Regions from separate parts of the Homo sapiens genome. Here regions 1 and 2 are each linked to region 3. The links come from fine-mapping of genetic effects on gene expression. A gene starts in region 3. Each other region holds a variant in brackets. All regions are shown on one strand. Distances are from middle to middle. Region 1 overlaps PCDH12 (protocadherin 12). Region 2 overlaps PCDH1 (protocadherin 1). Region 3 holds the start of PCDH1 (protocadherin 1).

Region 1 (10,281 bases), 68 kb before region 3:
GGAGTCAACAGATTTTTCCTGTCTTGTAGCAAATCTCCCAGCTGCTGTCCTTGCTGCATCAGGGCCAATTCCAGCCCAAACCAAACCACCGAGGAAATAAGTACTTGGCCAAGCCAGGAGGCAGCAGGTAAGCAGCACGTAGCCCCCACAGGCATCTCAAGGCCCCTACTGGCCGCCCCTCATCACTGCAGCCTCTGTGAGTGAGGAAGGGTGAGCACAAGTCAGACACCGGTCCCCTGGGAGGGTGCAGCAGACAGCATCCATCCTCCCACCCTGGGAGTTTTGGTCGTGAGGTGACTGTATTGATAGTATTTACAGGACCTAGAAGTCCTGTAGGACTAACTAGCTGTATTGATAAATACCATCAATACAGTAGTCACCAAGGAAATGACCTCATCCCTGAGACTGTATTTGTCCCAATTACAGAGGTGCTGTAAATTGCCTTTATATCTGTAACTGTCACCTCTCTTTCTCTTGACCCATAAACATAATATGAAGGCTCCCCACTAAAGACATGGCTGTGTGGGCGTGTCCCTTTGGGCAATCCTAGAATTGAAGACACCTTAAGAGAACATCAAATCCAACTTCTTGTTACGGATGGAGAAACTGAGGCTCTGAGTAGCTTGATTCAAACCAGCTATGTAAACTTGAGCAAGTGAGATAATCTCTCAGGACCTTGGTTTCCCCATCTGTAAAACAGAACCCATCCCATTTCCCTTGTGGTAATGGGGTGAGGATTTCATAATCAATTGTATTCTAAGCCCATAGCCCAGCAACTGACACATAGTAGGTGCACACACAATGCTAACTCCTTTCCCCTTGAAGCAATTTTGCTAAAGGTCATGTAACAAGTGAGTGGCAAAGCTGGGACCAGCTCTCAGAGTTCCTGACTCCTGCATCAGTGCTCTTGCCCTGACAACTTACAGCTTCTTTTTACAAGGATGGTGAGAGGTAGTGTACTGCAGGGGTGAGTCCACACACTCCAGGGTCACACTGGCCTGGATTTGAAGTCTTGCTTTATCTCTTAATCTATGGGGACCTTGGGCAACCTGCAAAATCTTCACAAGTCTTGGTTTTCTCATTTGTACAATGGGTTGATTAAAGAGAACCCCTTACAGGTGTGGAAGGTTTGAATAAGACGGTGCATGGACCTTGCATCGCATAAGGCCTGACTCAGACTCACTGCTCAAAAACATTAGTTGTCATTATCACCCACACACTTGCCACCTCCCTGCTCATTTCTTCACAGCAGCAGAAATGGCTACAGGGGAACAAAACCAAACAAACAGAAGGACTCCTACGCCTTAAAACCCCTCAGGTAGCCTTCCCACCTGCTGGGATGAGGGTCCAGGCCTGTCCCCAAGTGTCTATGGGAGAGAGGGACCAGGATGGAGACAGCAGGAGACTGGGGTGCAGGTAGCAGATTCTGAGCAGCTTTAGGCTGCCTCACTCCGGCTGCACCCTCCATAGGTCTGCTCTTCTGGCCTAGGATTTGGCCTAAAGTAGGGAGGAAGGAATGTTCAGTCACTCATTCAGCACCCACTGTGTGCCACGCCCTGTTCTGAGCATCAGTAAGGGAGCAGGCAATGAGACAGGCAAAAATCCCAGCCTTCTCCTACGGACGGATGGACGGCTGCACTGGCTCCACTGAGGTTTACTAAACTCCTCCTGTGTGCCAGGCAATACCTAGACATGGGAGGGGCAACGAGAATGATATCAATGAACTCATCTTCACTTCTGTCTGCTGAGTGCTTACAATGTGCCAGGCTCTGTGGTAGGCCCCTCTACCTACAACGTCTCATTTTACCCTCACAACACCCTGTGAGGTGGGTGTTATTTATTACTCTCATTTTACAAATGAGGAAACAGAGTAAGAGGAGGGCGGGAATCACATGATCCAGGTTGGTCTGACTCTAGAGGCCAGGCTGTGTATCCAGTTCCCTATATGGGTAAATGAATGCAAACATGAATGGGCATGAATGAATGAATCTATATGGGAATGTCCCTACCCATGGACTGGTTGGTTTCTTTTGCAGGAGTGCAATCCCAGACACAGATGGCCCAAGTGCAAGGGCTGGAGGCCAGACAGACCCAGAACAGGAGGAAGGGCCTTTGGATCCTGAAGAGGACCTCTCTGTGAAGCAACTGCTAGAAGAAGAGCTGTCAAGTCTGCTGGACCCCAGCACAGGTAGGGACCCCCTGGAGTTACCTTGACCCTGCTTCTGCCCCATGGTGTCCAAGCTTCAGAGTTCTGCTCCAATCCACTGCAGGGAAAAGCCATTCTGTTTCTGTGGAGGAACATCAGCAACATTTAACTTCCCTTGCACCCTTGCAGCCTCAGAAAGTATTTTAAAGACCAGGTTCTACTTTGATTTTTTTTTTTTTTAGACAGGGTCTTGCTCTGTCACCCAGGCTGGAGTACAGTGGCATGATCACAGCATGATCACAGCTCACTGCAGCATTGACCTCCTGGGCTCAGGTGATCCTCCCACCTTAGCCTCCCAAGTAGCTGGGACTACAGGTGAGCACCACCACCACATCCCGCTAATTTTTGATTTTTTTTTTTTTTTGTAGGGACAGGGATTCACCTGTTGCCCAGGCTGGTCTCCAACTCCTGGGCTCAAGCAATCCACCCACCTCAGCCTCCCAAAGTGCTGGCATTAGAGGCATGAGCCACCTGTAATCAAAGCCAAAGTAGGCACCTGGCCTACGTTGATTATTCATTTTAAAAATCATTGTAAAAATAGTGAACATGCCAGGCACTGGGGAAGCATCTTATGTACATGATCTCATTTAAGCCTCCAACCAATCCCCTCAAGTAGATAATTATTACCTCGAATTTACAGATGAGCAAACCGAGGCTCAAAAAAATCAAGTAGCCTTCCCAGAGTCACCCAGCTCACCAGTGATTGAAGGGGAGCCAAACCCTGAGCCAGCCTGTCCTCTATGGACTTCTTACCACTCATTGGCGTTTGGTGTGTTTCAATACCCTTTCACCCTGGGAACCAGGTCAACTCTTTAATATGCTAACAATTGCAATGAAAACAAAAAGATTTTTTTGCAGAGAAATAATTAGCTTTGACAATAAATACATAATGTGAACTTGAATTCAAGAATCTGCTAGCGCCCCCCGCCCCTGCTGTGGACATTGGTCAGCCTCCTTTGGTAACACACCCCACGGCAGACCATCCCTGTGCTGTGGTTTTCTATCTATGTAGTTAACACTGTTTCTCATGTGCTCCATCTGGCTGCAGACACACTGAAGGTATGGCAGGGACTTCTCTTTCCTTGGTTAAAAAATATTGCTAATGTTTATTGGGCACTTTCTATGTGCTAGGCCCTGTTCTAAGTACCTCATGAGAAAATCTTATGAGATAGGGGCTATTCATTATCCCCATTTCATAAAGGAAAAATGTGAGGGTCAGGGGTGTTTCATAATTTGCCCAAGGTTGTGCAGCTCGTGGATGGTTATTAACACAGGCAGTGTGGCTGTAAATTTTAGAGCTGTGTTGTTCAATGAGGTAGTCACTAGCGACAAGTGGCTATTTAAATTTAAGTGAATTAAAATTAAATAAAATAAAATATTCAGTTCTGCCATACCAGCCACATTTCAAGTGCTCACTGGCTATGTATGGCTGGGGGATATAGCTTTGGATTCTATCTCTATTGGTCAGCTCTGGCTGGAACCTGTGGGGTCAGTTCCCACACGGTCCTGCTTGCCCACAGCACAAAGGGTACTGAACACAGGGGCACTGTAAGGAGTTGGGGGTAAGGAAAGAGGAGGGGCAGAAAAGCCTTTGCTGCTCACAGGCTGGACTGCCATGGGGAGACTGGGATCTTGCTGCTTCAGATCTGCTTCAGATTGCTTCAGATTTGCTGCTTCGGATTCAGATTGCCCCACTTGAGAATGCGACCATGATAATGTTTTCCTGGTTGCATGAACTCACTGAACCTCACAACAACTCCACAAGATACGTACTACTGTCTCACCACTTCCTAAGAGGAAACGGGAGCTTAGAGAGGTTAAGCCATTTTCCCAAGGTCACACACACTGCCCCTAAGCTGCAAAGCTGGGAAATCAAACCCAGGTTGGCCCAGTGCCCACCTGCAGCTAGAACTGGTGGGTGATGCTGGGTGAATTCAGCATCACTTTTCAGCTGTTCTCATACGCCCCAGTGATTTTCTCATTCCAAGCTTCACTCCTTCTGAAGCTCTCTGACCCATGTAAAAGGAAAGGCCTGATTCTATAACACCAAGAGTTCCATCCAACCTTATAGCCTCAGAGTCTCAAGGAACTAAGGTTTGCATTTCCCAAATGTTGAAGGTTAATATTTATGTTCATTCAATCATTCAACAAACATTCACTAAGTCCCAGGCATGGGGCTAAACCCAAGGATCCAGTAGGGCAGGAGCCCAACAGTGTCTCACAAGCTGCACAGTCCAGAATGCAGGGCAGAGATTCATTTATCAGTACAATAAATGACTACACATACTTCGGAATAACTTGTTCAAATTACATAAGTAATATTTGGTTAATATAGAAAAACATAGATAAACAAAAAGAGAATGGATTGCTTCTGCCCAGAGGTAATTTCAGTTAACATTTTGACATATCTCCTTCCAGTCTTTCATTCTGTGCGCAGATTTTAAAGTAACTCACCTTAGGCAAACATTAGATAAATGTTAAGTAGATGTTGTGCTTTTTTTTTTTTTTTTAATTTTTTTAAGACACTGTTTCTTAACTCCAAGACTTATAATTTCTTTCCTCTGGCTTGGTCTCTACCATCAGGCCTGGGACTGGTTTCTTGAAACAGGATTTTCTGTTAAAGGGATGGGAAAAGAAGGGTGACTGTGGCATTGCAAATGTAGGGGCCAGTTTTTTGAATTCCCAGCCACCAGGCTGACTTGCCACCGCCACTACCCCAGTCCCTCTCCTGGGACAGCCCTTGGACAGGCAGCCCCTCCCCAGCCTGACTCTAGGCCAGGGTTCCAGCAGCTTGAGAGATGATGTTGAGGAGGATTTGAGGATCTGGGGCCAGGTGGTAACAGTGCAGACCTTAGGTAGCCTGGGAATTCCAGAGGCCCCAGCTGGGCACCTGGAGTATCCAGGGGGAGGAAGGGCCAGCTCTTCAGAGAGAGGGTAGGGTGGTGCCATCATAGGCTTCAAAGTCATCAGACCTGGCATCAAATTGAGGTTTGGTTGCCTAGCAGATGTGTGACTTAACTTCTTTCAGCTTCAGTTTCCTCATCCATCAAATGGGAATAATACTCTTGACCTCAAAGGTTTGTGAAGTTAAATGAAATAATTATGTAAATTGCTCATCACGTAAGTACCTAATATGTGGTCCCTATTATTATGGATGGGAACCAAAAAAGGCAGCGCTAAGTCAGGAACTCCAGCCTTGGCAAAGAAAAGGGATTTTCCCTCCATCCTCAGCTAGTGGAGCCCTGAGGGGAGAAGGCGCCCTGAGGGGTAAAAATCCTGGATGAAATATAGAAGACACTGAGACTGGAAACACACGCCCAGATTGGGAAATTCTTCAGAAATCGGCAAATTTCTACTTCTAGGCCTTCTCCTCCTCCTGCTGCTTCCCCACTTGGTTCGCCCGGGTGTGTCAGTCGACTGCTTTCCTACCCAGGGAGCTTCCCTGTCAGGGCCTCTTCCTTCCTGTCCCCGTCTGGCCACTCTGTCTGTCCCCTGCCATTTCCCTTCCCTCCTTTGTCCACTGCCCTTGCCCTGCTCATTGCCCCACCCTCACCCGCCTGGCCCTTCCCGGAGCCTGGCCCTCACTGTGTCCCCTCCTTCCCCCACAGGTCTGGCCCTGGACCGGCTGAGCGCCCCTGACCCGGCCTGGATGGCGAGACTCTCTTTGCCCCTCACCACCAACTACCGTGACAATGTGATCTCCCCGGATGCTGCAGCCACGGAGGAGCC[A/G]AGGACCTTCCAGACGTTCGGCAAGGCAGAGGCACCAGAGCTGAGCCCAACAGGCACGAGGCTGGCCAGCACCTTTGTCTCGGAGATGAGCTCACTGCTGGAGATGCTGCTGGAACAGCGCTCCAGCATGCCCGTGGAGGCCGCCTCCGAGGCGCTGCGGCGGCTCTCGGTCTGCGGGAGGACCCTCAGTTTAGACTTGGCCACCAGTGCAGCCTCAGGCATGAAAGTGCAAGGGGACCCAGGTGGAAAGACGGGGACTGAGGGCAAGAGCAGAGGCAGCAGCAGCAGCAGCAGGTGCCTGTGAACATACCTCAGACGCCTCTGGATCCAAGAACCAGGGGCCTGAGGATCTGTGGACAAGAGCTGGTTTCTAAAATCTTGTAACTCACTAGCTAGCGGCGGCCTGAGAACTTTAGGGTGACTGATGCTACCCCCACAGAGGAGGCAAGAGCCCCAGGACTAACAGCTGACTGACCAAAGCAGCCCCTTGTAAGCAGCTCTGAGTCTTTTGGAGGACAGGGACGGTTTGTGGCTGAGATAAGTGTTTCCTGGCAAAACATATGTGGAGCACAAAGGGTCAGTCCTCTGGCAGAACAGATGCCACGGAGTATCACAGGCAGGAAAGGGTGGCCTTCTTGGGTAGCAGGAGTCAGGGGGCTGTACCCTGGGGGTGCCAGGAAATGCTCTCTGACCTATCAATAAAGGAAAAGCAGTGATTCATTCTCCTGTTTGCACCTGTCAAGAGGGAGAAGGGAAGAGTAATAGAGTGGGGTTTATTTGTCATCCAATCCCTGGCAAGACCGTCACACTGGGCCTGGACAGGAGTGGGGCACCTTGGTACACAGTAACAGGTACACAAATAGCAGACATGTGTGCTCTTACCCCTGTTCCCCTATCACTATGTTACCAACTAATCTGCTTCTCAGCTGCAAAATTAGAGCTAAGAAAGCACAACTATTTATAAAGCATTTACATGAGCCAGGCACCAGGCTTTACAATAGGATTTAATTTGATTTTCCAACAATCCTGGGAGGGAGGTATTATTAACCCCATTTCACAGACACGGATATGGGGCTTGGAGAGGTCAAGTGGCTTTCCCAAGATCAAGCAGGGAGTAGAGCCAGAGCCAGGATTTGGACCCAGGCTGGGCCAACACCAAAACCCATGCCTTCAACCTTGACACCAGCCTGCCAACCAAAGACAGGAGAAGGGAAGGCCCTGGAGGTGAGCTGTTGGCAGCAGTGAACTTGCTCGAGCTCCCTCGGGAAACACTGTTGAAAGGAACATTTCCAAAGCCATCCAGGCCCGCACCTCTCTACATTCCCAAGCACAAGGCAAAAGGAACTTGGATCTGAACTGATGCAGACCCGTTCTTTCCCAACAAGTAGCTCTTCAAGTGCGGATGTCATCTTTCCCAACCCCATTTGCGGGTAAACCTTCCTCTGTCATTGCAGGTTCAGGCTTGTGAATCCCAGAGGACGCTGTGTGAACTGGGTCTATGAAATCGGCACTGACAGCAGCCAGCCTTCCAGGGGATGGGGGAGGGAAGAAACAGCAGATATTTTCCCAAGGTTCAGCTTTATAATTTTCTTGGAAATTTCCGAGCAGCCAATCAGCTAGCTTCTAAATAGTGTGGGTCTCTCCTGGACACTGCAGGCAAAAGTTCCTCTATCTGCTCCTCTTTTTGTCCTTTCTTGGAGCTCAGTGCTCATGTTCACTGTTCAAGAAATGGGCCAATCATACTCCCAACTAGGGATAATGTGCATCATACATACTTGGAATACAGTGTGGTATCATTATTCCATTTTACAGATGAAGAAAATGAGGCTCCCCAAAGTTATGAGTTTCAGGGGCAGAGTTTCTCCTCACCTCACTCTAGGCCAGAGTGATCTCCTTACAGAATCTGTGATTTTCAGGCTGGATCACAGAACTGTTGGGTTCTGTGGGCCAGTGAGAGAAACTGGGGGATATCAAGCAGGCAGGCAGGGTCTCCAGCCTGACCAGCCAGGTGCCTGCTACAAAGCAACACTTGATGAATAGCTGTTGAATGGATGTATGAATGAATAAATGTGTCAATAAATGCTTCAGAGGCCCCTTTTATCCATATTGGAGCTCCAGGTAGGACTTCATTAGAAAAAAAGACTCTGTGATGTAAAAGCAAAGTCTGAGAACCACAGTACTGGAGTAGACCATGGTGACCTCCCAGTTACCAGCAGATTTTCAGTGCAGAGCAGATGTTGGGAGGGTGGAGAGAAGAGAGTGGGCAGGGGGAGATGACCTGAGGAAGCTGGAGCTATAGCTGGCAACTGGATCACTAGACACATGGGACCATTGCATCATTCTAGTTCAAAAGCCCTAAATCTGTACTCCTTGGGCACCCTGAATACTAGGTAAAACTTTGTGTCTAGACACTTTTTTAGGCAGAAGATACAAAATTCTCATCAGATTCTCAAAGGAAACCTTGACCTTTAAAAGGTTACACAGCATTGCTTTAAGATACTATCTAAACATCCACAGACATGGGCAGTTGTCATAAAGAGTCTGAACTTTATCTATTTCAACTCTTCATTTTATAGCCAAGAATATAGAAAGAAACGGCAGATGACTTGCCCAAGGCCACCTGGCAGGTTTGTGGGGGAGAGCTTTCCAAATTAAGACATTTAACTGAGTGCTTGCTCAAATCAGGATTTGGATCTGGGATTTAGTATGGTGGTCTTTTTAATACATCAAGGATTCTTAATCTGACGTCTTTGGTTAGACTTCAGGATCTATGAACCTACTGAACTACATGCAAAATTGGGAGGATATGCATTTTTTCTATGGAAAGAAGTAGGTGCTTAGATCAGATTCTCAAAGAGATTTCGGGCCCAATTAAGATTAGAAAGCACTACAATCCTCTAGGTCAGCCCTCAGCCCTGCCTTCCCTGCAGAACCTGGAGAACTCCTGCGTAGAGCTGCTCCTGTTCTGAACTTTGATCAGAATGGGGGTGTATGTACGTGAGGGACAGTGTTCTCTCCTGCACCATGTGTCCCCTCCTGATGAGCTGATACCAGCACCTTTCCCAATAACAGCTCAGAGTGAGACCGTGTCTATGGTAACAGAACTGGGTGTGTTGAACAGGAAGGTTACAGAAATTTCTTGACATCAGCCAAGATGTCAAAGCTGAGACTTTGGACACGCTCAAAACAGTTTCCACCAAGATGGGCTCTGTCCCCTGGGAGACTGAGGGAGCAGGCGAGCCAGCAAGCACTGTTACATGTCGTCCTAATTTGGAAAGCATAGAGGGACATTTTTTAAATCAATAGTCAGCCGTTCTCCAGCACCAGGAGTGCAATGCAGTGCTCACTCAGAGCCTGGAGGCAGCTCAGAGATTGACAGGCAGCTGCCTTGTCTGTCACCCAACTTCAGTTTGGCAGCTCACTGACGCTGCCTCTTCTCTGGCTGAAATAAGAGTGATGTGGCAACCACTACCTTTGAAACTCTGGAGAGAACCAAATCCCAAAAAAGAGAGGACAGGAGGAAGGAGAGGCTTGGCCTGGCACATAGTGTGTACCTAGAAAATAGATAAGCATTTTCTAGCTCCTACTAAATTTTGGGTACAACGTGGGAGGAGTAGGACATGATCAGAAACACTCATGCAACAAACATTTTGTGTTTATTGAATAATTACTAAGTGCCAGAAGTAGCACAGGAAACCGTGTGTGTGTGTGTGCGTGTGTGCGTGTGTATAGGCGGCGAGTGGGGGGCAATACAGAATTATTCATTCAAGTTATTTAAAATTATTCATTCAAATTACTTAAAGTACCTACTATGTGCTGGGTAGGCTTGGTGCTGGGCATTGGGTGGGGGGAGTTGAGTATAATCACTCACTTATTTGTTGAATGTATATTTACTGAACATCTGAGTGCCCCACACTATATTAGCACTAATGATATAGTAAACCAAATAGCCTTGTTCCCATCATAGTGTCAGGACTCCCTGAAAACAGCATCTCCGGATAGGGAAACTGAGGCAGTAGAGCTTCCCACAAAGGTCTCATTGGTGAGGGCGCCGGGCTTTAACCCAGCATCCTGACCCAGGCTGGCCCTGCTGATGGGAGCCACCTCCCTCTCGTCCTCTCACACTTCCTCTGGGGCACTGATGATGAGTCATTAATAACAGAATTTTAATGGCAAAAGCACAGCAGTACCCAGCTCTGCCAGTGAAGCCCATCCCCCTGGGGCTGGATCAAGACCGCAGTGACTGAACAGCCAAGGATTTTTGGTCCCTTGACAACACCTTTCTCACGACTCTGCCATCCTTCCCTTTCCACAGGAGAGGCCCTTCCTTTTTAAATTGGAGAGCT
Region 2 (10,281 bases), 20 kb after region 3:
GTGGGCACCGGGGACACCACGTCCACGGGCTCTGAGCAGTACTCCGACTACAGCTACCGCACCAACCCCCCCAAATACCCCAGCAAGCAGGTAGGCCAGCCCTTTCAGCTCAGCACACCCCAGCCCCTACCCCACCCCTACCACGGAGCCATCTGGACCGAGGTGTGGGAGTGATGGAGCAGGTTTACTGTGCCTGCCCGTGTTGGGGGCCAGCCTGAGCCAGCAGTGGGAGGTGGGGCCTTAGTGCCTCACCGGGCACACGGATTAGGCTGAGTGAAGATTAAGGGAGGGTGTGCTCTGTGGTCTCCTCCCTGCCCTCTCCCCACTGGGGAGAGACCTGTGATTTGCCAAGTCCCTGGACCCTGGACCAGCTACTGGGCCTTATGGGTTGGGGGTGGTAGGCAGGTGAGCGTAAGTGGGGAGGGAAATGGGTAAGAAGTCTACTCCAAACCTAGGTCTCTATGTCAGACCAGACCTAGGTGCTTCTCTAGGAGGGAAACAGGGAGACCTGGGGTCCTGTGGATAACTGAGTGGGGAGTCTGCCAGGGGAGGGCACCTTCCCATTGTGCCTTCTGTGTGTATTGTGCATTAACCTCTTCCTCACCACTAGGCTTCTGGGGCTGGGTCCCACATGCCCTTGACCCTGACAATAAAGTTCTCTATTTTTGGAGTTTTGGTTTCTTATTTTCTGGAACTGAGAGAAGCAGCGAGAGAGACTGGAAGCAGCCCTTTGTCCTCAGGTCCTACCTCAATTTCCCCTTCCCTTCTCTTTGCCTCTTGCCACATCCTAGACCTGCCCATTGTACCCCACACTATCTTAGCCTACCATCTTGCCATCCACCCCCATGTCCCTATCCACGTCTGGGAAAGTGGCCTTCTGACCAGCCTTCAAATGGAGGTGTCTGGCAATGTGTCCCCTTGCCCCATGTCTATAGGGCTTTCTTCCTAAGAATGACCCAGAAAGGGCAGGTGGAGCTATACCCAAGTCCTGCCCCATCTGAGGCTTGATTTTTCCAATCTGCTCAAACAGTTGCCTCTGACAGACCTCAGACTGGAGCACCTGGTAGGGAGTAGCATTCAGCCTTCCTTCCTGCCTTAGGTGAAGGCAGAGAACCTCTTGATTACACCAGCCACCTTCCCCCAGGGCAAGTCCTTCCCTCAAGTCCCTTCCCCAGCCTCTTCATCCCAACAACAGGCAACACCCAGCAATTCGCTGGCCCTCCCCTGTGTCTCCCCACCATGATCACCAGCCTGAGCTGCAGGGAGCGGGGCCCTGGGGGAGACATGGCGAATTCCTAAGTTCTTTGCATTGACCTGCCCTGCACCCCCACTCTTAGGGGGTTCCCTGCTCATGAGCAGAGGCTTCCTAGTTCTGCCTTCCGCCTGTGATGCTACCTCCCTCCCCACTTTCCACTCCTTGCTCTGGCCACCCTGGGTTGCTTGCTTGCACTCTCTCTCTCTCCATCTCTCACTTCTTGCTCTCCTGGGTCTGCCCTGTCTCTGGTTGTGCCTGAGTTGGAGGAAGGCTAAATCGTGGCTGAGGGGCCTCAGGCCCTGGGGGAGTCTCTGAGGCCAGAGGCAACCTATCTCCATGGTGACTAAAGAGGCTTGAGACACTCCCAAGAGGACCAAGGCTCCAGCTCTCTCCTCTGATTCCATCCACAAATTCCCCCAATGCCCTGGGGGGCCCCCAAAGTAAAAACTCCTTGGGTCCTTGGAGGAGTGGGGCCTGGGGAAGTGAGATCTAACCATATCGTGATCTCCAGCAACTCCTGACCTCCCATTCTTTCTCTTCCTTTTCTGTCCTTTCTGGCATTCCTTCCGTCTTTCTCCTATTCCTTTAGCGTCTTCATCTCTTTTTCTTTCCCATGATCTGAGGGATTGTCTCTTACTCAGCTCTAATCCAACCTAACCCATCCATGGAGCCACACTGAATGTCTTCTCCCAACATTCAGATACAACCAAACCACACCACCTGTTGTCATCATCAACACACACAGGCCAAGTTTCCACTGAGTACTCAGCATGGTACTAGACCCTGATGAAAAAATGGCCATACTTGTACAAGACAGACAAGTGAACGATGAGGCAATTGAGTGTCTTGAGTCGAATGAGAAGTGCCCTACTAAAGCTTTTCCCAACTTATTCCATGAAACTACTTCTACTGCTACTGCTCACTTCCTTTTTTTTTTTTTTTTTTTTTTTTGAGATGGAGTTTTGCTCTTGTTGCCCAGGCTGGAGTGCAATGGCACGATCTCAGCTCACTGCAACCTCTGCCTCCCAGGTTCAAGCAATTCTCCTGCCTCAGCCTCCTGAGTAGCTGGGATTACAGGCATGTGCCACCACACCCAGCTAATTTTGTATTTTTAGTAGAGACAGGGTTTCTCCATGTTGGTCAGGCTGGTCTTGAGCTCCTGACCTCAGGCGATCTGCCCGCCGTGGCCTCCCAAAGTGCTGGGATTACAGGCATGAGCCACCATGCCCGGCACTCACTTCCATTTTTTGAGTCCTTACTAGGTGTGAGGTACCATGCTAAGCACTTTGTGTGAATTAGTTCAATCAGTGCTCATAACTCTTTATGATATGGGTCATTTTAATATTAATTTTGCAGAAGTGAAAACTAAATAGTGATGCAGCCAAATTCAAACACAAAGCAGGCGGGTCTCCTATTACCTATTATGCTATAAAAAAGGCGTTCTGTGGTGAAGTTAGTTTTGGTAGTAAGAAATTCATGATCACATTAGCCTATTAAAGGCTCTGCAGAGTCCTCCAAAAAAGGGGGAACCTGTTAGACTTCGTTTAACCTTTTTTTTTTTTTTTTTTGAGACAGGGTCTTGCTCTGTCACCCAGGCTGGAGTGCAGGGGCGCAATCTTGGCTCATTGCAACCTCTGCCACCTGGGCTCAAGCGATCCTCCTGTGTAGCTGGGACTACAGTCGTGCACCACCACACCTGGCTAATTTTTGTAATTTCTGTAGAGACAGGGTTTTGCCATGTTGCCCAGGCTGGTCTCAACTCCTGGGCTCAAGCGATCTGCCCACCTCAGCCTCCCAAAGTGCTTGGATGACAGGTGTGAGCTGCCGTGCCTGGCCCCAATTTTGTTTACCTCTTGAGTTTTCTGAATTTATTTCACCATATTGCCCCTCCCTTCCTTTGACGAGCACAGTATGGGAAAACTTGTACAAGACATGGAAATGGGCTTCTGGAAGGAGAAAGTCAGCTTGTCAATGATGAGCAGGATTAGGGCAGGAGGGTCCCCTGCCTCCTCACAGGGTCACCGTGTAAGCAAACTCCTGCGGCAGAAGTGAACCAAGTTGGAGGCAGGGAAAGGGCAGAAAAAGGAATATTCTGGCAAGAAGAGGGGCATAAGAGAAAGCTGAAAGATGAGACTGGAAGAACTGTAGGTTGTAGAGGACATAGGTGCCTTACCAAAAGTTCTTCAGAAGGAACTAGTCCCTGAAAGCTCATGAGTGTTTTAGATGAACTGAGTTTTAGAAAGAGCACTGGAATATATGGTGGGCTTAAAAGGGCATAGAGATGAAGGTACAGGACTGAACCTCTAAGAGTTGGACTATGATGGTGGCAATGGGGGTGATGGATGGATGGATTTGGCAAAGGTTAGGGAGAAAGGACCCACAGGATTCAAGGGATAATTGGATATGAGGTAGGGATAGGGAATGAGGGGAGAGCTACCAGGATTCTCAGGTAGACATCAGCCTTCTGAGTCTGGGTGATAGGATAGTGATGAGATCATTGCCCATACAGAAGCTAATTGAAGAAGCATTTGGTTTCAGACATGTTGAATCTTAAGGGCCAGTAGGCAGAGCCAACTGGAAATAATCAGCAAGTGTCTAGAGCTTCAGGACTCAAAGAGTTTGAGAGAGATTTTTTGATCTGGGCTTTTATAATTTGATAGTCATAAAATTAGAGGGAACATTAAGTGTTGGGTATAACCCAACCCTCCATTTTATGGAAAAGAATCATGGGAAAAGAGACCAAGCGACTTGCTTAGTAGGCAGGACCAAAGCCTTCAATTACCAGATATGGGTTCTGCAGGGAGGTGGGACTGCTGGCCAGTATCTTGAAAGAAAACTGGAAAGAGAAGCACCAACAACCATGTTGCCCTGTGCCTCCCAGACCCCTCCTGGACCCTAATCACCCCTACACCAGGTGGACTACACTCCTTTATAGCCTCCCGGCCCCAAACATCCATGTTAGTTTTGGGGACCTTATCAGTCATCACCCAGACCCTTCAGTGTTTTAGATCAATACAAGGATTCCAAGAACGGTCGCTTATTCCTGAAGATGAGGTGGGAGCCATCTTCAGGAATGGGGATAGTGGGGAGGCAGTTCTGGGCTACCTTCACAGCAGCTCCAAAACTCCTGTCCTGACAGCCTCTTCCACCCTAGCTGCCTTGAATGGGGCTATTAGGAGGGTAAGTCTACAAAGCCAGGGCCACCTCCCCTGGCCATCTTCATAACCTCCTATCCAGAGTTATAGAGTAAGACAAAGCACTGCCAAAGTCTTGGAGGATGGGAAGGAGCTTAGAGACTCATCAGCAGGGCCCTGGGCTTAGCTGTTTTCACCCCTGGCCTCCAGGGACCCTGAGTCTGCACCCTCCACAACTCCTAATTTCTGGTTGGCAGGAAAATCTGTGGCAGTCCCAAGTGGGTATTTGGGTGGCTGGCTGGTTGTGCCAAGTGCCAAGTTGAGATTGCCAGGTTCCAGGGCTGATCGTTAACCTGTGGCAGGCATACAGGGCTGCTGGCTGGGAGCAGCCTGTCACGGTTCCACTCCCCCGACCCCCAGTCCCCAGTCCAAGCCTCCAAGTCTGGCTCCTCATGCCAGCAGCCCTCCCAGAAGCTCCTTCCTATTTCCTGGAAGGAGTCTCCCTTTGAGACCAGCTTTCCTAATCCCTAATGGGTGCCATGCCCTCTCCCCATGTCCAGGCTCCTGGCAGAGCCCTACCCTCTCCAGTGAATATTCTATTTCCTGATCGGGAGGACTGGGGAGTTTCCATTGTTCTGCTTTGTCCCCTTCCCCCAGGTGCCCTGGTTTGTTATCAGGCTCCTCCCTTTTTTTCCACTCCCAGGCCTCTCTGGAGGGGAGTGAAGTGGGGATGGGGGGCTGAGTGGGAGGGGCGACAGCAGGGAGTCTTCAGACTGCTGCAACATCACAAACCAGGGATGAGGAACACAGGATAAGAAAAGAAAGGTTGTTCCCTCATTTGGAAGGAGGCAGTGGCAAGAGCAGTGAGACAGGTGAGGAGCTGGAGTTTGGAGGGTGCTGTTTGGAAATGAGGGAACTAACTGTTGTGGTATTGGTGAGCTGTTTGGGAGTTAGGAGTCTGCTTCTTTTAGGAAGCTGTTCTAGAAACTGCAGGCTATGCTGGTGTTTAGAGGCTGAGCTGGAATTAGGGGAGTCGGGTGGTATTATGTTACTCTGGTATTGGGCTCTACACCGTATTACAGGTCATTCTGGGATTAAAGGGAGGCTGTGCCAATATTGGGAAGCTGGGTTAGAACTAGAAGGGTTGTGCTATAACAAGCGGTTGCACTGGATGAGGGTTATTGGGGTAGCATAGGGGCTATAATAACACTGGGGCCTGCGCTGTATTGGGACTTCCAGTATGTGGACTTGGCTGTACTAGGAGCGGTCCTAGAACTCAGGAGCTGTCTTTCACTGGGGCCTGTGCTTTCGGGAGGAATGTGCTGTGCTGGGGCCTGGGTCTCTT[CTTG/G]GTTGCTGTTGAAGCCTGAGTAGGATGGTGCTTGGCTTGTACTAGGGCCTGGTATGGTGGTGGGCCCTGTGGGCAAGCTGGCTGGTCAGTAGTGACAATCTGTCTCCCTGCAGTTACCTCACCGCCGCGTCACCTTCTCGGCCACCAGCCAGGCCCAGGAGCTGCAGGACCCATCCCAGCACAGTTACTATGACAGTGGCCTGGAGGAGTCTGAGACGCCGTCCAGCAAGTCATCCTCAGGGCCTCGACTCGGTCCCCTGGCCCTGCCTGAGGATCACTATGAGCGCACCACCCCTGATGGCAGCATAGGAGAGATGGAGCACCCCGAGAATGGTGAGGCGCAGCACCATGGTCAGGGCACCCCAGGAATGAGTGGAAGCCTGGGAATGGTGACAAGGCCTTAAACAAATCATCTATGTATTGAGTTATTATGTGCTCAGTCATCATCACCGTGCTGAGGGCTTTCAGGTATACACGCATTTAATCCCCAGAACCACTCTGTGATTTGAGAACTTTATGGCACCCACTTTACAGTGGAGGAAACTGAGGCTTAGAGAGGTTAAGTCACTTGCCCAAAGTCATACATCTAGAACGTGACAGACCTGGGAGGGATTCAAACCCAGGTTTCTCTGACTCCAAAGCTGTTGCATTCGGCACCATGTTTACACGGCCACCTGGGAACAGGGACCCTGAGTGTGGTGGCCAGAAAGCTCACGTAATGGTGAGGAAACCTTGAGAAGGTGGGTGGTGGTCCTCTAAGGTTGGGAAGGCCTTGAGAATAGAGATTGGGCCCTGGATGCTACAGGGGGCTCAGAGAATGGAGTGACGATATGCTGGGGTGAGGAGTGGGAGAAGGTTTGGCACCTCTTTGAGGAAGAGCGCGGTAGGAGGTCTGGTGAAGAGAAAGGCCTGTCTGGGAGGGATTTGGAGGGTGATGGCAAAAAGGAGGTGTGAGCCAGCGCAGAGGTCGGCATGGGAATGGATGGTGAGGTGTGCCGTCAGTGTGTGTGCAGTGCGTGTGCATGTGTGAAGTCGTCCATGGCAGCCTGTGGAGGGGGAGAGTGAACGAGCTAACCCCTGAGATGGAAAGACTCTCTAAGTTGGAGTTGTCCTCGGGTCCCACCCACTCCCTCAACTCAAAGCCTCCTCGCTCCACAAAAGATGGGAGGTTTCACTCCCCTGCCTCAGGCACAGGGCCCTTGTCTAACCTCCCGGGCCCTTGTCTAACCTCCCAGGCCCTAGGTCTCAGAGTGCCCTCCACCCCCACCCCGCCCCTCCATGCGCGATCTCATGCCCGTCTCATCCTTTTTGTGCCCGCGCAGAGCCGGCTGGCCGGAGCAGGCCCTGAGGCAGAGTGCCAGGTATGTGGGAACTGCTCTGGGGTCTGGGGTCTGTGGGACTCTGCCCAGCACCCAGCCTCACCCACCCAGTGCCCATGCTCTGCTCTGAGCCATGTTGCGTCCCCCAACTCTGCTCTGAGCTGTAGAGCCTTGGCACTTTGAGGGTTAACAACAGAGCTGTCCCCTCCTCACCTGGCACTGGCAGGAGGCCAAGCCATAGTGGGTGGTGCCAGGGGAGCCCCTGTCCCAGGCAGTGTTGCTTAGCCATGTCCCTTGGGGGTGGGGGGGGGTCACTGCCTGGTGCTGTCCCTGAGCAAGGGCAGGACAGGGACAGCTGTGACAGGAAGTACTCATGGCCCAGCCGTTCCCATGGAGACCCCCGCTGCCCAGCAACTACACCGGCTACTGCTGATGTCAGGCAGCCAACTCCTGTTCCCGTGGGTGTTCTGGGCAGGGAGCTGGGGCAAGGCCAGGGGTGGTGGCTGGTTTAGGGGCCAGAGTGAGGTGGGGAGGGGCTGCATGAGCGTGCTTGTGGATGTGAGTGTGTGCCTCTATGTGAATACCCCACACAGAAGCTCGTCCCTTCCCCCTGGCTTTAAAGCAAGGTCTTGCAGGAGGAGGGTGGGTTCAGGACCACCGGGAGCATGTGAAGCTTGAGGGGGTTCTGAAGGAAGCAATGTACCCAATTTCATCTGAGGATAGAGGTGCCCACTGTAGTAGATTTGTGTATCCATGCCTATCTGTGTGTGTGAGAGGGAGAGAGAGAGAGAGTTGATTGTGTCAATCAATTCAATGAGGATGGAGGTTTCCTCAACCCCACCTGAGGATAGATTTGCACATTTAAGTCTGTCTGGAGATAGATGAGGCAGTGTGTAGATGAGTGTGTGTTTGTGCACCTGTCTGAGGGCAGATTTGGTGGGTGTGTAAGAAGAGCACTGGGGGGTAGGTGACGCTGGAAGGAATGTGTCTATTTAGGGCTTGGTGGCTCATGCCTGTAATTCCAACACTCTGGGAGGCTGAGGCAGGCGGATTGCTTGAACTCAGGAGTTCAAGACCAGCCTGGGCAACATGGCTTAAACCCCATCTCTACAAAAAAATATAAAAAATTAGCCAGGCATGGTAGTGCATGCCTATAGTCACAGATATTTGGGAGTCTGAGGTGGGAGGATTGCCTGAGCCTGGGAAATTGAGGCTGCAGTGAGCCAAGATCACACCACTGCACTCCAGCCTGGGTGACAGGAGTGAGACCCTGTCTTGAAAAAAAAAAGGATAAGGCTGGGTGCGGTGGCTCATGCTTGTAATCCCAACACTTTGGGAGGTCAAGGTGGGTGGATCACCTGAGGTCAGGAGTTCAAGACCAGCCTGGTCAACCTGGTGAAACCCCATCTCTACTAAAAATCCAAAAATTAACCAGATATGGTGGTGGGCGCCTGTAATCCCAGCTACTCGGGAGGCTGAGGCAAAAGAATTGCTTGAACCCGGGAGGTGGAGGTTGCAGTAAGCCGAGATTGCGCCATTGCACTCCAGCCTGGGTGACAAGAGCAAGACTCCATCTCAAAACAAAGAAAAAGAAAAAGAAAAAAGATAGATTATGTGTGTGTGCGTGTGCGTGTGTACAGTAGGCCAGTAGGTCGATGGTGGGAGGGCATGTGTCTCTTTGAGGGTGTGTGTGCCTGTGAGTTCAGCGGTCAGGAAGGGGCGCATACTCCTGTCCTGAGGTGGGGTGTAGATGCCAGTGGGAGGCCATGAAGCAGAGCTTTGCAGAGGCTGTATGTCTGACAATTGTCCTTCCCCGCTCCCTCCTACAGACCTTCGCCCTTTGCCTGATGTCGCCATGACAGGCACATGTACCCGGGAGTGCAGTGAGTTTGGCCACTCTGACACATGCTGGATGCCTGGCCAGTCATCTCCCAGCCGCCGGACCAAGAGCAGCGCCCTCAAACTCTCCACCTTCGTGCCTTACCAGGACCGAGGAGGGCAGGAGCCTGCGGGCGCCGGCAGCCCCAGCCCCCCGGAAGACCGGAACACCAAAACGGCCCCCGTGCGCCTCCTGCCCTCCTACAGTGCCTTCTCCCACAGTAGCCATGATTCCTGCAAGGACTCGGCCACCTTGGAGGAAATCCCCCTGACCCAGACCTCGGACTTCCCACCCGCAGCCACACCGGCATCTGCCCAGACGGCCAAGCGCGAGATCTACCTGTGAGCCCCCTACTGGCCGGCCGGCCCCCCTCCCCCAGCCGCCGGCCAGCTCCCAAATGGCCCATTCCAGGGCCTCACTCTCCACCCCTTCAGCGTGGACTTCCTGGCCAGGGCCCCAAGTGGGGGTATCACTGACCTCATGACCACGCTGGCCCTTCTCCCATGCAGGGTCCAGGTCCTCTCCCCTCATTTCCATCTCCCAGCCCCCAGGGGCCCCTTCCCCTTTATGGGGCTTCCCCCATCTGATGCCCAAGAGGGCTCCTCTGCAATGACTGGGCTCCTTCCCTTGACTTCCAGGGAGCACCCCCTCGATTTGGGCAGATGGTGGAGTCAAGGGTGGGCAGCGTACTTCTAACTCATTGTTTCCCTCATGGCCGACCAGGGCGGGGATAGCATGCCCAATTTTAGCCCTGAAGCAGGGCTGAACTGGGGAGCCCCTTTCCCTGGGAGCTCCCAGAGGAAACTCTTGACCACCAGTGGCTCCCTGAAGGGCTTTTGTTACCAAAGGTGGGGTAGGGACGGGGGTGGGAGTGGAGCGGAGGCCTTGTTTTCCCGTGCTGCTCCTGGACTGGCCCACCTGCCTGCCACATGCCCACGCCTAGTCCCATCTGGGCCCCCATTCCCTGCTGGTCATGCAGTGTCTGTATATAAGGACCTTGGAATGACGTCCCCATTTCTGCCTGATTTGCAACTTTTCTTGTTGATGTCGTGTTGTCTTGGGGGACCCCTCTGGGGGGGGACCTGCCCTGTGCCCCCTCCTCCCTGCCGCAGTGCCCCCCAACCCAGGCCTCTATTGTTCCATGTTGTAAATACCCCTGGGGCCATGGTGGGATGGGGGTGCAGGCCAGGGAAACAACGGGTGGGTGGGGGTGGGGACGGGGGTAACATTTGCCTATCAGCAGAGCTGGGCTTTTATTTAATTTTTCTTAAAAATACAAATCTCTATTTTTTTGGAACTGTTGCGCTGTGCCCTGGGGGGATCCCCGCTCAGGCTGGCCTCCCACA
Region 3 (10,281 bases):
TCTGAGTCCAGACCCCTTCACTCCCCACACCACCCCCCGCTGGGGACAATGGCGCCTTCAGCCCCCAGAGATGAATGGGGCCTTTGAGAGCCGCATGCCACGGGGTCAGCGGCGGCCACCGGGTCCCCGGGGGCTGCCCAGCCTCCAGATCAAGGAGACTCTGGTCAGGGAGAGTGGGGAGCTCTTCGGGGAAGAAAGGAATTCCATGGTCCCTTTCTTAGAGACTAGTGGGCCCCGGAGAAGAGATTCATCTGGATCAGGCAGTTCCTGGTAAAGAAGGATTTTAAGGGGGTGGGGAGGGAGGAACCCCCACTACCTGTGGCAGGGAAGGGGAGATTCTGTGCCCCTTCCTCAGGAGGCAGCAAAGCCAGCTACCAAGCTTTTGCTACCTCTTCCCCCCACTCCACGCTCCATCCCGCCTGGTTCCCCAAATCGGGGTCCCACCCTCAGTTTGCATGGGGCAGCTCCCCGTTTCTCTCGGTCCTTTCATCGGGGGCTGTCCCTAAGGCTTGGTCCCTCCTTCCTGCTCCTGTCTCCCCTCCGATTCTTGCACTGCACAGCCTACCCAGTTTCTATGGAAACAGGCTGGGAAGGCACTGCCAGGAGGCCAAGGCCACTACAGCTCTTGGGGGGAGGGGAAGATAGAAATGGAAAGAGAGACGCAGGAGGCGAGTTCTGGCCATTCCCGGAAGCGGGTGGAGATCTGTTGGGAGTGAGCCTTCACTGCCAGAGGGGTGGGGCAGAAGGAGAGGTGTGATTAAGTGATGTGACTGAGACAGAGTTGAGGGGCTCCTCCTCATTCCCCCAATTCCCAGTGCTCCAGACATCTAGACAAGCCTCCTCAGAGGGGAAAGTGGTGGATGAAGAAGGAAAAGAGACAGGTAGTACCAAGAGCTCTGCCCATTTCTAACTTATGTGAGGCTCTATCCTTTTACCCCTCCTGGGGACATGCCCACTTGAGAGGAGGTCTCCAGGGAACTAGAAGGCTCCCAAGAAGTGGGAGGGAAAATTGGAGTGCGGTGTGAGTGGTCAGGGATGTTCAGGAATCTCCCCTAGGAAGGTGAGCTAGAGGTGGGCAGAGGCCTCGGAATGTCAGCTACTTTTATGGTACCCCTCTCTGGCACCTCCACTGAGGAGTTGGTAGGGGGCTGGAGACTGTCAGCTTCCTCCCCTCTGTTCATCCCATCAGAACGTTGGGCTATGAGAAAACAAAAGTGGCCTAGTGGGGGTTGGGTGCACAGAAAGGGAGATAAGCCTAAGGCAAGAAGGGCCAGAAGAGGGGTGGGTGAATGAGTGAGTGCGGATGCTTGTGGCTAGGGCAGGGAGGGAGCTTCTTAGAAGCTTCATCTGCCAGCTCCTGGGAAGTGATCCCCAGCCCTCACCCTCTCCCGATGCTCCCACCTCAGGCAAAGCTGCCCCTTGGACAGGAACTATTGGAAATCTCAGAGTCCTGGGAGATTGTGCTGTGGGGGATTCCTTGGAAAGGGGCCTTCTAGGTTATCAGAACGTTCAGCAAAGCTTCCCTGGGGGAGAGGGGTAGTGAAACAGGTACCCTGGAGCCTAGGGTTTCCTGGATCTGAGCCATCGGCTCTCCCTGACCATAGTCCCCAGAACAGTCGTCTTGGTGTTTGCTTATTTTGGTTATTTTTTGATCAGATATTTTGGCACTGAGCACACTGCCTCCTGTTGCCATGGCAGCCGTGACAGGGGCTGAGGCACCGTGAGAAAAATACCAAAATTAATGAGTGAGCGAAAGTGCAGCCGAGAGAAAAACAAGGTTAAAAAAAGAGTTAAAACAGTAATGAAAACAGGCTTTCCAGCTCCACAGCAGAGCAGCTGCTGAGGCCTCCCCAGAGCAGCAGCCCCCACCCAGCCTAGAGCTCCTGGCATCTCCCAGACCTCAAGGCAGGACTCACTTGGCTTCCCCCACCCAGCTCGTCACTGACCCAGCAACAGCCACTTGGGGACCACCCTATGCACAACAGTAGATCAGCTCCAACAGTACATCAGCTTCCATCTCAGGTAGTATCCTGCCTCCCAGAACAGCTTGTCATCTCCTAAACAATAGAGTCTCAGCCACAGCCCCCACACAACAATGGTCCAGCAAAATTACCAGGAAATGGCCTCCTAGCTACACCCAAGCTTTAAAGTTATAGCTGCAGGCATCCCAGCTAGAGTCCAGCACACAGTAACAGCCCAACCACAATTCTGAGCAACAGCATCTTAGCTATAGCCAATCCCCAGTATGCTGTCATCACAGCTACAGCTCCAGGACCAATAGCAGCTCAGCTACAGTCCTATACACAACAGTAGCTCTGCTCCTATCCCAGGTAACAGCCTGTCTCCCAGGTACAGGCTCCTCGCAACAGCCTCTCATCTCCTAGGACCTAGGCAATGGATCCAGTTACAGTCCCATCTACATCATATTAACAGGGAACAGCTTCTCAGCTACAGCCAGTCTCAGGTGTGCCAGCCTCATATCTATAGCTTCAGGCCCAACAGCTTATCAGTTACAGTTCTCCCTCAACATGCACACACACACCCATATACACACAGCTTGGCGATAGTTTCTCAGGTAATCTTATTGGCTATAGCCTAGGCACACCAGCATCAGAGCACTGCAACAGTGTCCTAAGTACAATCAGAGGCAGCAGCCTTGGTGTTACAGTTCCAGGCCCTACAGCATCCTAGTTCACTTAGCCACAGCCCATCCCAGGTACACGGATATCACAGCAAGCACCCCAACCATTCCCATACCCAGCATCACCCTGGTTCCAATCCCTGGCCACAGTCTCAGCTGGAACTCAGGCACCATCAGTTTCAGGAGCCTCCCCCAGTGCTTCACTTGCCAAGCAGGTCCTCCTCCCACTTTGGTACAGGGCCAGAAGTCTGACTTCTCTCCTCTTCAAATGCCACCTCCCTTGCTCCCCAACCATCCTCCCAGTCCCTGCTTGCTCACCTGCCCTCTTTCCTGGGGAAAAAAGGCCCCAATTCTCATATCTACATTGTCCCTGACTCAGGGGCACAGAGCCCAGCCTGGCAGCTGGGGTAGGAGGGGCTGGGGAGCAGGGAGAAGAGTAGGCACACCCTGGTGCTGCTGCTGTGGCCCAGTTCTGCTCCTACCACTTGGTGCAGAATTTGAGTTTGATGGTGGTGGAGCAGGGAGGATGGAGGCGAACATCTGGGAGATTAGCATTTCCTGCCCAGCTCTGCGGCTGCTGATCCTGCTCAGCCCTGAGCAAGGGAGGAGAACAGAGGAGCCTTTGAATGGCTCCCAGCAAGCAGACTGGGGAGGGTTTGCTGCATTGGGCAGCGGGCACACGCTGGGGGCAGGGAGACCGGGGCAGCTCTTCTGTGGAAGATTTCTTCTCTCTGGGCCACTGATTCCCTCCTCGGAGCTGTGCTCAATGATGTGGAGAGTATGAGCTTTCTAGAGACAGAAAGAAGCTACTTACAGAACAGACCCACCCCCCTCTTTCACCAGATTACCCCATCTCCCATCTAGAGCCCTGCCCCTGGGCTCCTGGGGCTGAGGGATAGAGCAGAGCCCAGGTCAGAAAAGGAGTCCAGTTAAGCAGGGCTGCTCTGGGAGAGATCTTGGACAGACTTTGCTTGCCCTCTTAGCTAACCAGAGATTCCACTTTTACCCTGAAGAGCATCCCACCGAGAGAGGCCAGAGCTGAGAAGAGAAGGAAGTAGAAGAAAGAGGAAAGGCACAGAAGAGTGGTAGGAACAGGAAAATGGGGAAGGACAGAGATGGGGAGTCAGAGGCTATGGCAAAAAGAGGCCCAACAACTGGTCATCCCATAACAAGAGCCTTTCCTCACCCAGCACTAGGCCTGGCTAGGGATAACCTTCCTCATTCTTTTGACCTAGAACACTCTGCCTGGGCCTGCAGGCGAAGAAGGCAGGAGGTCCTGTTGAACTGGGACACTTGGTAGCCTGGGTTACCAAACCGCAAGCGCAGGAGAGGGAGTTCCCAAGCTACTCAGAGACCTCTAGATGGCGCCAGAGAGCCAGAGCTGAATGGGAGAAACCGAGTATTGGAGTGTGTGAGACACTGCGTGTGACACCGTGTGTGATTTGGTGTGAGTGTGATAGGGAGCGTGTGGCACTGCGAGGGCGTGTGACACAGGCCGTGACACTGCGCGGCCTCGCGGGGCAGGGACCCGGTGACTGTATAATGTAAGTCACTGGCAAATACGTGTGGCCGCAGCACTACGCCGTGCAGAGGGCAGGTGATCAGGGGACCCTCGAATAGCCTAAGCTCAGGAGCAGCACTTCGTCTTCACGCTTGTGTATCTTCCCCATCCTCACTCTAGAGCCCCCGGGTCCCATTAGCCTCCTCCTCCCACGGTCCCCTCCATAGCCCCACCCCCACGGCTTGCTGCGGCCACCGAGGCTGACCGCTCTGCGGCTTCGGCCGGAGGGGGAGGGGTGGACTTTCCCCGAGCGCAGCGGGAAGGGAGGGCCACACAGGGCGATCGGGGATCTGGGCGGGAAGAGGGTGGATATGGAGGAGCAGGTGCCCAGGGAAGAAGGCGCTGTGGGAGACACTTCCCTTGCCTCGACTTCCCAGGGGGCAGACAGAGCTGGGGACAGGTGTTTGAGTAGGGTAAGGAGGGGAATCCAGGAGCGGTCCTAGATGGAGGCTTGGGTGGGATAAGTGTAAGGTGAAGCTCAGAGGAGGGCACGGCCTGTGTACTGGGCCTCGGGCAGTGAAGAGATGGCAGAGGGAGGGGTCCAGGCTTTGGGGAGCGGTGCTCGGGGTCCCCTCCCAGCCGGACCGGAGCGGTCCCGAGCTCCACCTCCCGGCCGGAGGGGGGGCGGGGAGGCGGGCGGGCCGGGAGGGAGGGGGGAGGGAGGGGGCGGGCCGGGCTGTGCGCTCCGCTCTCTGCTGGCTCCGCCGCCGCCGCCGCCGCCGCCGCCGCCGCCGCCGCCGCCTCACACACTCGGGGAGCGGGAGCGCGGCGCGGACGCAAAGCCGCCGGGCTGCTGCGCCCAGAGCCAGCCGGAGCCGGAGCCGGAGCCCGAACTGCAGCTCCAGCCCCAGCCGTGCGGAGCCGCAGCCCAGGCCGGGGCCGGCGGCGGCTCATGGACAGCGGGGCGGGCGGCCGGCGCTGCCCGGAGGCGGGTAAGGATCCGGCGGCGGTGGAGGCAGCAGCGGCTTGGGGCCCGAAGCGGTCATGGCCGGCGGGAGCTGAGGGAGGGGCGCTCGGCGGAGCGAGGCCGCGGGGGCCCAACACGAGCTCGGCGCGAGGGGGCTGAGGTGGGGGCTGCTGGGAGCCCATAGCAGGGGATGCGGCTGAGGGATTCCGTCCTCCCAGGTCCGCGGCGAGAAGCCGAGGGAGGGGAGGGGGTGCTGAGCAGAACCCTAGTCCCCGCGTCCCAAACCTGGGCGCGCTCGGAGAGACGGGGATAAGGAGACTCCAGGAGCGCGCGGCGTGGAGGATGGGTTTGGGGAAGCGCGCGGCCCCCAGTTTGGTGGGGGTCTCCCGGAGGACGGAGCAAGCAAGGACCGTTGTCCACAACACATACATACACACTTGTTGGGCAACTACCTCGGCTCACTCAGCCGCTTCCAGCTTCTCGCGGGCACCCAGAGGGCCAGACCGTGGACATATATACACACATACATACATCCCTGCATATGTGCACACAGACATACCTCCCGCACACCAGCGCCCACTGGGGCACCGTCGCCAGCTCAGAATCCGCTTCAGTGTCTGCACGATCAGCAGCACCGACACACAACCCGTGGCTTTACAGAGCAATAACACAACCGGGTGTGACACCCCGCGACGTGGACACACAAACACAATCTCGTGCCCTCATGTACGAGTGTCACAGCCACAGTTCACTAGATGAACCCTCAAAACCTAGCCACCCCCCACATTCCTTTAAGGAACACACCCTAGCATATATCATCTTACCCACTTCTTGGCCAGAACATAGGTACACAGCACAGGTCTCCTTGCACCCCTCTACTGCACCCACACAAACACACAACCCAGTATCTCAGCACACGCTTGATGGCACACACTCTAACACAGGAATTGGCACCTACAGCAGCGCCTCACGGTCACAAACACAGAATCCACTGCTTCACCCATCTTAACACTGGGTGTCACACACACCTTAAACCAACAGTGTCACATTACATTACACCCTGCAGCGCATACACACAAACACACACACTCCGTTCCTCTCTCTCGGAGTCCAGATTCAGGCAGGAGAAGCCGCCGGGGTCGTTCGGCGAGCCCCAAGCGCCCCGCCACGTTAATCGCGACATTATTATTGTAAATATCGGCACAGCGGGAAGGCTGGGCCGGCCTGCCGGCTTCCCAGTCGGCGCCTCCCCAACCCCCACTCCCGGGCCGAACCGGCTGGTGTTCCGGGAACAAGCTGGACCTGGCTGGCCAAGCCATCCCGCCTCCCCGGAGCTCTGGGGCCCCAGGTTCCTTTGTAGAGGGTGCTAGCCTGGGACGGTGATTGCGACCCTCTTCCAGCCATTTAGCTGAGTTTTCTGAGCCACCTGGGTCTCCAGCACACCTGGGTCCCACACACCTTGGTGGGTCCCGCACACCTGGGTTCGTCTCACACCTGAGCGCCCCCTCCGCCTGGTCCCCGCTGTAGGCCAGTGTGTGCGCGGGCAGGCCCTGGAGCCAGAACGGAGATCGCGGCAGGCATAGGAGCAGAATTTGTAGGCGAGGTGGTCTCGCACCCCTTCCCCCCAGCTACCCTCTGTAAGTCAGAATTCTGGCCTCAGTTTCCCCAACAGTGGTCGGCTACTATTTCTTCTGCCAGGAAAGACTGGGGGCGGCACTGAGGCCTTGGAGGATTGAGCGTAGGGCAAAAAACCCCCTCTGCTCGCCACGAGAGGGTCGGTTTTATGAGAATGTCCCCGCCTAGCCGGGTTCGCGGCTTTGTGATTCCGGCGCCGGCTCCCTCCCCGCCCCCTCCTGGCGCCCGCTGCGCCGCTCGCGCCGGCTCCGGCTTGCGGGGGACCCTAGGCCGAGGCCGGAGATGCCGGGGAGGAGGGATTCCCCGCGGTGGCCTGGGTGCGGGGGGCGCAAGGGCTCCCCCCACTAGCCGAAGCGCGTTCTCACCACGCCGCGCCCTAGCCTTGCCTTGGGTTCCTGGAGGCTGGGCGCTGCCGGGGTGGGGGTGGGGCCGCCAGAGCCCAAGAAACTGCCGCCGTCCCCCCCGCCACCCCCTAATCTCCGCAACACACACACACACTCGGCGTCCTCTGGGAGGAGTCGCTCCGCGCGCTGGGTGTGTGCTGGGAGCGCCCGCTGACCAAGGCGGTGCGGACTGGGGCTGCTTGGGTCGCTTCGTGCAGGAAGACGCCGCGAGGCTTCTAGCACCTGCTCTGGGTCAACCCTCGGGAGCTGCCAGGGAAGGGGCCGCCCAGAAAGTTTTTATGACAAGCCGGAGGTCTAGCTGTGTTTGTAGGGGGTGGGGGGCGCGGGAGTAGGTGGGTGTTACTTTATTGACGTTAAGGTCTGGGGGAATTGGAACCTGTAATTACAACTAGACTAGGGCATGGGGTGGAATCGAGGGGAGAGGCAGACTGGCCCCCAGAGGTAGCCAGAGGCAGTGTGATAGGGAGGCAAGTCTGGATTCAGTTCTGGCCGCATTTAGTTTTTACCCCTTCTCCTACCCACCTCCAATTCCCAATTCCAAAAGGGACTTCAGCTGGAAGTGGGTGTCTTGCTGGTCTGCCATCTTCTTAGCAGAGGGGCTGCTGCTGTGGCTACTTCTGCAGGGGAGCTGGGCAAGCGATAGTAAGCTAATTGCTGAGAAGGGGGTTGAAGGGCCAGGAGGGGGCCGCGAGGGTGGGGGAGGAGCTAAGTGGGAATCAGGGTTCGGGGAGGGGTGTAGGGAAAGAAGAAGGTGAGGGCTGCCCCTGCCGTGAGCAAGGATAGTTGGTGCAGAGATTCTGTTCAACAATGTATTGAGCACCTTTTATCTGCCAGGGTCCATGGTGGGTGGTGAGGATGCAGTAGTAAGAGACATACCATCATTGCCTTCATAGGACTTACCAACCAGCGAGGGGATTGGCTTGTTTATTCATCGAACCAAGGAGCACCCACTGTGTGCCCGATGCTGGAAATAAAATGGTCTATTCAGCAATTAGAAGACTTAGAAAAAAAAATGATTTGTCCTTTACATGTAATGTAAATAGACCTTAATGTAATAGACCTTATAGGCATGAGATCTCATTTAATTCTCCCAAATAATTTCAAGAGGCAGGTTTCATTATTTCCATTTCACAGTATGGAAACAGGTTCAGAAAAGTAAATTCACTTGGTTAATGTCACACAGCTAGGAAGTGGTGGAGCGAGGGTTCTAACCCCAACGATCTGACATGCAGGTGCCCAGAAGCCCTGCAGAGGCTAATAGAGGGTTGTGGGAGAGAGGGGAGAGGAGCTGAGGTCTGCACACTTGCTCTCTGTGGGAGGCTTCTGTTCAGCTCCACCCCACGCAACCCCATTTTCTTCCCCTCTCCCCGCGACAGTCCGTTTGTCCCTTGGTGTTTTGTGCCCGCGGCAGTGACCGTTGTGTAACAGTGCTGGGGTGAGGGTGGGGAGTCAGAGCTGACCTGGCTACTGGGACAGTGGTGGCTGCCTCTGTGTGTTTTTTCTCTGGCCACAGCACTCAGCAAAATGGACCTTGGTCCCCGGGGTGGGCTGGAAGTGAAGTTTCCGGGTGAACTCTCACCTCTGTTCTCATCCCTTCCCAGATGTTGACACAGACAGTATTTCCTTCAGCTTTTCTGGGACTCCGTCCCCTCCTTATCCCTTACTCCTACACCCCTGACGGCACTTCTGCTCCTCTATCTGAGGGACATGGGTCCCTGCGCCTGTTCCCCCTCAGGCTCTGGCTTCTCAGGGTCCTGGGTGCCCATGTCACTGGGGGGAGGTAGGGCACCGTTGCCCAGGAAGGCAGCCAGGGCCCGGGGAAGGGCAGATAAGGCGCTGCATGTATCAAAGGCTGCTGTGTGGGATTAATGACTCCCAGTGCCCAACTGCTGGGGACAAAGTTCAGAGATGGTGGGAACACGGGTGAGGGAAGGCCTCCTTATTGCTGCTCCTGCCCTTCCAGGCCACCCTGGCTCTCTTCCTGCATTTCTACGGGCCCCTGGGTGAACAGCAGCAGCCTAGGAAGCCTGGGCTGGTTCATTCCTTGACCCTTAGGCCCACTGTTTCTTATTCCCTCCTTACGGGGCAAGGTTGGCAGTCCAGGAATGGTGGGGAGGCGGGTGTGACATAACAGGAATCAGATTCTAGCCTCAGATATTTCTGTTTCTTTCCCCCAGACTCTGGGATGTGAAGAGGCATTCTTGTTTCTCAAGTCCTGGTTCTTCCACATACTACTTCTGTGACTTAAGACAGTTTATTCTTTCTCAGCCCCCATTTGATCATCTGTAGTATGGGAAGGAGTGTAATAATAAATACTACCCATTTGAGAGGGTTGGGAGGAAAGAGATCATGTGTGTAAAATGCTTAGTACTGATAAAATCTTAGTGTTTGCTGAGATGATGATGATGATGAGTGATTATGATGGCAAAGGTGATGATAAAAGTTTGCAGGGGCTGGGCGCAGTGGCTCACGCCTGTAATCCCAGCACTTTGGGAGGCTGACGCAGGAGGATCACGAGGTCAGGAGATCAAGACCATCCTGGCTAACACGGTGAAACCCCGTCTCTACTAAAAATACAAAAAAAAAAAAAAAAAATTAGCTGGGCATGGTGGCGGGCGCCTGTAGTCCCAGCTACTCGGGAGGCTGAGGCAGGAGAATGGCGTGAACCTGGCAGGCGGAGCTTGCAGTGAGCCGGGATCGCGCCCCTGCACTCCAGCCTGGGCAACAGAGCAAGACTCCGTCTCAAGAAAAAAAAAACGTTTGCAGGACCGGGCCAGGCGCGGTGGCTCACGCCTGTAATCCTAGCACTTTGGGAGGCCGAGGCGGGCAGATCATGAGGTCAGGAGATCGAGACCATTGTGGCCAACACGGTGAAACCCCGTCTCTACTAAAATACAAAAAAAAAAAAAAAAAAATTTAGCCGGGCGTGGTGGCACGTGCCTGTAGTCCCAGCTACTTGGGAGGCTGAGGCAGGGGAATTGCTTGAACCCGAAAGGTGGAGGTTGCAGTGAGGCCAGATCGCACCACTGCACTCCAGCCTGGCAACGGAGTGAGACTCTGTCTCAAAAAAAAAAAAGAGTTTGCAGGACCTCAGGCTCTTTCTTAACTCCCTGGAATTATCTCAAAGTTGTAC

The links. PIP is the estimated chance that this variant, and not a neighbour inherited with it, causes the effect. A credible set is the group of variants that fine-mapping cannot tell apart.
Region 1: its variant is the best candidate, but not a certain one, in a credible set for the expression of PCDH1 in whole blood (INTERVAL, PIP 0.81).
Region 2: its variant is the best candidate, but not a certain one, in a credible set for the expression of PCDH1 in whole blood (TOPMed, PIP 0.76).

The regions. Positions count from the first base shown.
Region 1 is chr5:141,941,339-141,951,619 of GRCh38, reverse strand. PCDH12 (protocadherin 12) reads left to right here. Exons shown (of 4, transcript NM_016580.4): 2 at 30-127; 3 at 2,037-2,188; 4 at 5,815-8,039. The coding sequence ends at 6,239. It overlaps DELE1 (DAP3 binding cell death enhancer 1), which reads right to left. Exons shown (of 12, transcript NM_014773.5): 12 at 9,573-10,281. It also overlaps a transcript of RNF14 not described here. Among named protein-coding and RNA genes, the nearest start is that of PCDH12, 12 kb to the left of the region's middle. The variant A/G (reference allele first, on the strand shown) is at 5,936.
Region 2 is chr5:141,853,041-141,863,321 of GRCh38, reverse strand. It overlaps PCDH1 (protocadherin 1), which reads left to right. Exons shown (of 5, transcript NM_032420.5): 3 at 1-90; 4 at 5,851-6,070; 5 at 8,886-10,232. The coding sequence ends at 9,280. Among named protein-coding and RNA genes, the nearest start is that of PCDH1, 20 kb to the left of the region's middle. The variant CTTG/G (reference allele first, on the strand shown) is at 5,735.
Region 3 is chr5:141,873,076-141,883,356 of GRCh38, reverse strand. It overlaps PCDH1 (protocadherin 1), which reads left to right and starts at 4,947. Exons shown (of 5, transcript NM_032420.5): 1 at 4,947-5,134. The coding sequence starts at 5,095. RefSeq lists enhancers at 37-919, 4,949-5,698, 5,965-6,649, 9,752-10,281.